Regions from separate parts of the Homo sapiens genome. Here region 1 is linked to region 2. The links come from fine-mapping of genetic effects on gene expression. A gene starts in region 2. The other region holds a variant in brackets. All regions are shown on one strand. Distances are between the middles of the regions. Region 1 overlaps COL23A1 (collagen type XXIII alpha 1 chain). Region 2 holds the start of PHYKPL (5-phosphohydroxy-L-lysine phospho-lyase).

What was found. PIP is the estimated chance that this variant, and not a neighbour inherited with it, causes the effect.
Region 1: its variant is the best candidate, but not a certain one, in a credible set for the expression of PHYKPL in tibial nerve (GTEx, PIP 0.88).

Annotation. Positions count from the first base shown.
Region 1 is chr5:178,265,270-178,269,650 of GRCh38, reverse strand. COL23A1 (collagen type XXIII alpha 1 chain) reads left to right here. Exons shown (of 29, transcript NM_173465.4): 7 at 895-921; 8 at 2,318-2,344. Among named protein-coding and RNA genes, the nearest start is that of PHYKPL, 35 kb to the right of the region's middle. The variant A/G (reference allele first, on the strand shown) is at 2,038.
Region 2 is chr5:178,230,225-178,234,605 of GRCh38, reverse strand. It overlaps PHYKPL (5-phosphohydroxy-L-lysine phospho-lyase), which reads left to right and starts at 1,804. Exons shown (of 13, transcript NM_153373.4): 1 at 1,804-2,114; 2 at 3,083-3,201. The coding sequence starts at 2,056. LOC112267937 (a long non-coding RNA gene) reads right to left here and starts at 568. Exons shown (of 3, transcript XR_002956238.2): 1 at 1-568. RefSeq lists silencers at 1,570-1,979, 2,060-2,379 and an enhancer at 1,642-2,180.

The sequences.
Region 1 (4,381 bases), 35 kb before region 2:
GATTGGTGAGTGGATGGGTGGATGAATGGATGGATGGATGGATGGATGGATGGATGGATTGATGGATGAGTGGGTGGGTGGATGGATGGATGGATGGATGATGGATGGGTGGATAGATGGGTGGGTGGATGGGTGGGTGGATGGGTGGATGGGTGGATGGGTGGGTGGATGGGTGGGTGGATGGGTGGATGGATGGGTGGATGGGTGGATGGGTGGGTGGGTGGATGGACGGGTGGATGGATGGTTGGATGGATGGGTGGGTGGATGGATGGATAGATGGGTGGGTGGATGGGTGGGTGGGTGGATGGATGGATGGATACATGGATGGATGGATGGATGGATGGATGGATGGATGGATGGATGACTCATACAGGGATGGACAGATGGAACCCATACTCCAAGGAGCTGCTACCATTAAAGAAGAGAATGCTTTTTTTTTTTTAAGAAATAAGAAAGGAAAAAGAAGAAGAGAATGCCTATGGAGAGAGAATCTCTGTCTACTGCCTGCTTCTCAGATTCCAGAAAGATGGCTTGGGGGCAGTGGTCTCCCACTGACAATGACAGGGCGGGTGCTGAGCAGTAGGGAACTGACCGTGTGTGCTCTCTGGGAGGAGTGGCCAGTGCATGTGCCCCTTTCTCTGCTGCGAGGATGCCAGTGGGCCCTTGCTGGTCACCCGCAATTCCCCCGTATCCCTCATGCTGAGGACTGAGATGTGGAGCTTCCTTGGGCCAGCCAGGGCAGCTCTCATTGAGGGCTGAGAGCTCATGTGTAATTTTCCACTCAGCCGCCCAGCATCACGGGCCCTTCTGCCCTCAGAGGTATAGGGAAGCCAGAAGGGGAGCCAGCCTAGGCCCCTCACTCAGGTCTGTTCTTTCTCCACTTTCCTTTTCCAGGGACTTCCAGGCCCGAAAGGGGAAAAGGTAAGTGATGCCAGAGGCTGTGCAGATGTGGTAGGCAGGCGAAGAATCCCAGAAACCTGCCTCCGAACGCCAGTTCCAGTGTGCCCTTGAGCACATCACAGCCCCTCCTAGAGCCTCAGTTTCCCCATCTGTAGAGTGGGAATCACAGTGCCTACCTTCTAAAATGATTACAAGGCTTACATTTGACAATACGGCCTGCCCAGAGAGTTGAGTCTTGAGTTCTCCTGGGACCAAAGCATAACCAAACTCGGAGGCCCGGTGTTCCCAGAATGACGAGTGTCCAGAGGACTTCATGGTGAAGGGGGGTGCCAGGAGGGCTTGGGGATTGAACCATGACTGTTAATGGTATTCTCTGTGGGGAGGACACCCATCAGGAAGACAAGGCGGACAGCTATCTCTGCGGCCCCTTGGGAGGAAGGCTTCCTTGGTATCAGGCACTAAAGCCCCCTAGAAAACAGGGACCAAGTGTCTCAGAAAGGGACAGAAGAGACCTGTGTTACCCACGGTAAAATCAGGGGAGGGACCAGAGTAGGCCTAGGTGTGCCAGGGCCAGCCGGGTGCTCCCACAGCTGGACCATGTCCACCCCCGACCCAGAATTTGGAAATGGGAAGTGAGATCTGCAGATGGGCCCTGCTGTGATTCCGCAGCTCAGGCCAGGCAGGCAGGGTTCCCGCCCAACCACCAGGGCTGCGGGAGCCGTGGGGAGGCATGGGAGCTGGTGTTCAGAAGCTCGGCTTTGCATTCCAGCTCCACCACCAACTGTGTGACCTTGGCCAAGTTGCCGGGCTGTGTGGGCCTCAGTTTCCCCATCTGTAAATTAAGACCAATCTCACGGAGCCACAGGAGAGATTGCATGAGGTCATGGTCTCAATGTTCTTGTCAATGAAGAGACTAGTGCAGTTGGCAGGTGTCCTGATTACCTTCCTGCCGGCCTTGGCTGATGCCACCGTGTCATAGAAGTGATTCCATCAGGGGCTTTGAAACCAGAGAGAACTGGTGTCTTGGTGTCTATTGCTGCTTAATGCACTGCCCCAAAACTTGGCCGTGTAAAGCAACATTTACTCATTACCGTCCCTTCCAGAGGACACAGTGGGAGGGGCTGTCTCTGCTCCACA[A/G]TGTCTGGGGCCTCGAATGGCTGGGGCTGCCCCCTAGATAAGGGGACACCTACCTGCCTTCAAGTCCTGGATCTGCTAGCTGTGTGACCTTGAGCAGGTTAAGTGGCCTCACTGTGTCTGCTTCCTCGTTGGAAATGGAAATAAAAATAGGGCCTGCCTGCTATTTTTGTTGGAATTAAGTCATACCATGTCTATGAAGCACTGGGCACAGATGCCCGACGGGAAATGTGAAGAAACGATGAAAGCAGTGGTGATGCCTCTCCCTGTCTTTTGTTCCCAGGGTGCACCAGGAGACTTTGGCCCCCGGGTAAGAACCAGGCATGACCTCCCTCACTGCCCACATGGTTTGTTTTGTGTAATAATGAGGCATAACTGGCGCTGCTTCTGGGTCCCAGCTCCCCGCAGCTCATCACAGAAAGAGGCCAAGAGGGCTCTTCCCCACCCATAGCACCGGTGGAAGCCCCCAGGGACCTGGGTTGTGGGGCTGCCCCTCTTGCGCAGGTGGAGTGTCTCTGGAAGACGGCCAGGTCTCCATGCTTACCACTGTGGATGCTGGACAGTGGGGCTGGCACGTGACCCCAGACTGGAGACAGCGTCCTGAGGACAGCTGGCACCCCAAAAAGAGGGAAGGCTCTGGGGTCAGCAGAACTGAGCTCAAAGCTCAGCTCTGCCACCTGCCAGCTGAGTGACCCTGAACAAGTCACTTTGCTCTCTGAGACTCAGTTTCTTCAACTGTGAATGGGGGAACAGCCCCCACCCCAAGAGGTTGTTATGGGAAAGAAAAGGTAGTGGGAGCCGCAGTGCGGAGAGCGGGGCTGCAGCTTGTGGTCAGAGCTGGCCGGGCGCCTGCTCCGCACCTCCGCGGCCCTGAGCTGTGAGCAGGAGCAGGGAAGGGGGCTGGCCAGGCCAAGCCCCTGAGCTGTGAGCACGAACACAGCTGCTCTGTGCCAGCCACATAAAGCTGGTGAGATTGTTCTGCAGTCAAAGAAAGGGCGCTCATGCTGAGTTTTAGCTGCTGAGAAAAATCCTTCTGCTTGCTTTCCTGGTGGGTGTGTGGAGCTGATATTCCAAAAGGGGATGCCCTCTCTTCAACAGACTAGAAGTCCTGAGGCCCAGAGGTCATGAAGAGTGGATCTCCTCCCAATCCCCCAACCCTCCTCGTGGATACCCTCCCTATGGTCCCAGTGTCCCAGTCATCGGGAACACCACCCCCCAACACACACACACATATGCGCACACACACACATGCACACACAAAGTTTAGTGGCTTAATGGCCGGGCGAGGTGGCTCATGCCTGTAATCCTAGCACTTTGGGAGGTCGAGGCAGGTGGATCACTTGAGGTCAGGAGTTTGAGACCAGCCTGACCAACATGGTGAAACCCCATCTCTACTAAAAATACAAAAATTAGCCGGGTGTGGAGGTGTGCGCCTGTGGTCCCAGCTACTCGAGAGGCTGAGGCAAGAGAATTGCTTGAACCCAGGAGGCAGAGGTTGCAGTGAGACGAGATGGCACCACAGCACTGCAGCCTGGGTGACAGAGCGAGACTGTCTCCAAAAAAAAAAATTTAAAAAGTAGTGGCTTAAGACTCCAATTGCCATTATCTCTCATGGCCCCTGGGTAAGGGTTAGGCTCTCTTGGGAGGTTGCAGGCAGCCAGGCCGGGAGCCCTGGGTGATGGCACCGTCACATGGCCGCAGGTGGCGTGGATGCTGGTGGGCGCTCAGCTGGTAAGCAGCCATCCTTGGAGAAGGAGTCTGCACACCTGATCACCTAACTGCCTTTCTCTGGGCTTGGTTAAGTGGCTTTGCCTCCAGGTTTCAAAAAGCCTTGTAGTTCTTCAGATCACCTTCCTGCCTTTCTGACCACACAACCTATCTGCTGACTAGATGGTTTTCCCACGGCTCAATCCGGGCTTTATAAGTAGAGACCATCACCTGTACAATCGCCGGATCCTCAAGGTAGACTGGCTGAGTGGGGGTCTGGACCTGATGGCTTGCTGTGTTACCCCCAACTCACCCCACGTTTGCAGGGTTAGACCTCAGCCATCCAATCCCTGAGGGAGGAGCAGGCAGGCTGGCCAGGAAAGAGCCTAAGAACCTCTCCCAGGATCTGCTCCAGTGTCAGGCCCATTTTCTGCCTTAATAAGTAGAGTCTAGGCCAGTAGTTCCCAGCCTGAGGCCCTTTATAAAAGGAGCAGCAGGGAGCTAAGGGGGTGTCTTCAAATTCTTCCTGCTTCAGTGCAAATTAAAACAGGAATCACCCGCCACCATCACCACCCATACCTGGTGACCTAACCAAACTGTCAGTTTTCTTTCCTTTCCGCTGGAGCTGTAATATTTTGAT
Region 2 (4,381 bases):
CATTGCCTAGAGGGCCAGGCATGAAATAAAGGACAGATGAGTGCCTGGCACAGGGCCAGAGACAAGGAGTGGGCTTTTCTGAGCAGGAAGAAGGTGAGGCCTCCTGGTGTTCTGTGCCATGCTATAAGATACTCCTGGCCCAGGAAATGGCTCAACCTGGTCTGACCTCCAACTATATCACCTCTTGACCCAGGAGCAGGTGAGATGTTAGCCGGGCCCAGCTACAGCCTTCTCACCCTCTGCCTTAAAGCAGGAAAAGCCCCTGAGCCAACCTGATTCCTCTGAGCTGCACGGGGCCACAGCTGTGGCTGGAGTTTGGGCTGCAAGACAGGGCTGAAAGGCGGGGCCCAAATAGGACTCACACACACACAAATACACACACACACACACGGTCTGTGAGGTCTTGATCCTCAGAAACGAAGTACAGGCTGGGTATGGTGGCGTGCACCTGTAGTAGCAGGTACTTGAGAGGCTGAGATGGGAGGATCACATGATCCCAGGGAGGTAGAGACTGCAATGCTGCACTCCAGCCTGAACAACAGAATAAGACCCTTTCTTTAAAAAAAAAAAAAAATACAGGCCACAAGCAGTTAACCTCGCAGTTAATTTGGGAAGAATTTTTTCCAAAAATCATGTAAAATATTCAATTCAGCTTTACAGTTAAAAATAAGAAATTCCATTCTTTTAGGGAAGATGAAAAAGTCCTGTTGCATGGATGGTGGTGATGGCTGCACGACGATGTGAATGTACTTTTGCCACTGAATTGTATCCTTAAAAATGGTTAAAATGGTAAAATTTTGTTATGTATATTTTACACAATAAAGAAAAAAGAAACTCCAAATGTTCTTTAATAAATGCCTTAAGCGGCCGGGTGCGGTGGCTCACCCGGCCTGTAATCCCAGCACTCTGGGAGGCCGAGGCAGGCAGATCATCTGAGGTCAAGAGTTCAATAAATGCCTTATGCATCTTACAACTGTATTGGGAAGAGAAGAAGAAATCAGCAATGAGGGAGTGAAGCAGAGGCCTGGGAATCATGATGTGGACAGAAAGAAGGGACAATCAGGAGCCTCCCCTGCACCTGCTGCAGTCCCAGGCCCGTGTTCCAGGGTTCTTCAAGGCAGAAAGCCCCAGTGCCTCACCCCAGGAGGGGGCTTTTCTCTCATATCCCAGCCCCTTGGGAGGCTTTTTCTTCTCACTCCCTGGGCTGGGAGTCAAGAAGACCTCAGTAGGAGTCCAGCCTCTGCAGCCTTGCTGCGTGTCTGACAACAAAACCCTTTCCCTTTCTGGGCTTCAGGGTCACCGACATGTACCACAAGGAGGATTCCCAACCTCTCTTCTTGCCCAAACGCTGCATGATTCTCTCAGCGACGATACAGCTCGTCCGGTTCACCCTGCCTAGATTCTAGCAGGAACTATGGTGCCCTGAAGGTCAAGCCCATGGTGATCTCCTTGGTCAGCCCCAGAAGGGACCCTGGGCTCTCCTTCTGCTCTTCCTGCTGCCCCTTCATGGGGCTGGGAAAACCTAGGACCTGCTTCTCCCACCCTGAGGCCCCTACTGTGTACCAGGCCCGGGTAAGGTACCAGTCACATACTCGCACTTAGGCCTCACAGTTCATCCCATTTTATGCACAAGGCGACTCAAAGACTGAGTCTGGCCCAGAGAAGGCCTGCAGGAGCTCCGAGCCCCGCCTGGGCGCCGGGAGCAGGGGCGGGGTCGTCCGGGACCCTTTCCCGGAAGGGAGGCCGCAGGGGCCTGCGGGGCGGGGCCTGCGGGGCGAGGCCCGGGGCGCGTCCCGGAACCAGAGACGGGGCAGCGCTCGAGTTCCTGCGCGGGACTGCCAAGGCACGACCACGGGCCGGAAGGCTGCCAGGCCCAGTGGGCAAGCGAAGAAATGAACCACCGCAACGCGGGCGCTTCGGGGCGGGGCCGAGTGCGAACCTGAGCCCCAAATCCCGACCCAGGCAGGGGCGGGGCCCGGAGCGGGGCCTTGGAGGCCCAGCCCGCGCGGCGACGTCTCCGCGTGGCGTCACGGCACCGACTGACGGCCACCCACCATGGCCGCAGACCAGCGCCCGAAGGCCGACACGCTGGCCCTGAGGCAACGGCTCATCAGGTACCCGGGCGGGGGGCGGGCGGCGGGGGGCGCGGGGCTGCGCGGAGAGGCACGCGCACGCACGACGCACGCACGCACGCACTACGCACGCGCCTCCGGCTAGGAAGCCGCTGCTACCCATCCCGTCCGGCCGCTGCCCCGGCCCCGCTGGAGCTTCTAGGGCCCGAGGCGGGCGGCGCCGTTGGGCAGTCCCGGCGGGTGGTCTCCGGGGCCGCCTCCCCGACAGCGCCGTCTCCAGGCCGCCCAGTTCAGGAGACGGCCCCGCCCTCACCGCTGTTCGGCTGTGTCAGCCTCGCTTGGCAGCCTTTACTCCGGAGAAGACCTTCACCCTGGCGCCTGAGAGGACCTCACCCAGGGTGGCCCGTCAGCAGCACCTGGGCCTGGCTCGAGAGTGACCTGGGAGGGGGCTGAAAGGGCAGACAAGGGAGAGTCGGGGGAGTCGGTTCACAGGCAGCACACTTGACCTGTGAGGGGGCCCTCGGTGGGACGGTGGGTGAGGTCGCCTCCCACTGGAGCTTAGGGCTGGCACCCAGCGAGGGGCAGCAGGGCCACGTGGCTGGCAAGGAGCTGTTTAGGGCTGAGAGCCAGGCACCTAATGTTGGTGCCCTGGCCCATCCCATCGAAGACACGCGGCCTTATGGAGTCCCCATGGGACGGGGCAGCCACCTTTTCTCAGGATCCGGGAGACTGACGCGGACACATGCAGAAATGAGCAAGGAGGCCACAGAGGCTGAAAATGCTTTCAGAAACAATCCGAAGTTTCAGCGACTTGTTACCCCATCTGCTTCCTGCTTTGCAACCACCTGTGGAGTGGAGAGACAAGGCAGGGAAGCAGCACCTTGCCCTTCCAGCTCTCATTTCCCCCCCGCCACCAGAAACTGGGAAGGGGTGGGCGGGGGTCTGCGATGAGTAGACTTCACCCTTTCGGTCTTCAGACATGGCTGTCCACTCCTTGCCTGTCCCCACAGCTCTTCCTGCAGACTCTTTTTTCCCGAGGATCCTGTTAAGATTGTCCGGGCCCAAGGGCAGTACATGTACGATGAACAGGGGGCAGAATACATCGATTGCATCAGCAATGTGGCGCACGGTCAGTATCACACCTCAGGCTGGCAGGGCAGGAGAGGAAGGCAGTGCTGTGAACCTGGTCCCAAGGTGACCTGAGATTGCCGAGAGGTGTGGAGAACCTGGGTGGAGTTGAGGCACTGTCAGTATGCAGAGGAGGCTCAGCCTTCGCAATATAGCTGTGGAATTCTGCAATCTGGAGCTGTGCTAAACCAGGCAGGGGTCAGCAATCTAGGTCTGTGAGTCTAGTTCCACTTGGGACTGATGATGAGCTCACAAAGTGGCAGATGGCCCAGCTGTGACCAGCAACGTAGCACAGTGCTGGCCAAGTGCTGGGGTCATGGCAGTGCTTCAGCCCCATTGGCCATCTCAGGTGCTAGGCAAGGGAGCTGAAGTAGGAATTCAGTCATCTTGATGAGGCTGCCAGAGCTGATGGAAAGAAAGGGAGTCTGAGACTCAGCAGGCACATGGAAGATGAATAAAGTTGAGGTTAAAAAAAAAAAAAAAGCAGAGACTCTAGTCTTAGACTGCTTGGGCTCAAATCCCTGTCCCCTACTTACTAACTTGTGATCTCGGGCAAGTTACTTAATTCTCAGTGCCTCAGTTTGCTTATCTGTGAAAGACATAATGATACTAGGTACCCACTTTAAGGTGTTTGGAGAATTAAGTGTGTTAATTTATGTAGCTTGCTCTGAATGTGCCTGGCACATGGTGAGCTCTCAGTACATATTCACTGTTATTATCCTTGGCCTTTGACAATCAAGATTACCACCAGCCCCCTTGGCTGGTGAAGTGAAACCAGTTGACAGTCACCCCCCACCCCACCTTTGTCATACAAGCCTCAAAAGGCCTTCCAGCCTGGGCAACATAATGAGACCTTGTCTCTACCAAAAAAAAACTTAAAAATTAGCCAGGCATGGTGACTGGTGTCTATAGCCCCACCTGCTCAGGAGGCTGAGGTGGGAGGACCACTTGAGCCCAGGAGTGTGAGGATGCAGTGAATGCCATGATCACACCATACACTCCAGCCTGGGTGACAGAGTAAGGCCCTGTTAAAAAAAAAAAAAAAAGTCCTCCTTAAAGACATGGGCTTTCTAGACAGGGTTCTTCTGCTGAAGCGGCTTTCCTTCTGCCAGAATCTCAGGAACTCCTGGATCTGCCTTTCCAGAACCAGCTTCTCTCTCCCTGCTCTGCCTTCAGACTGC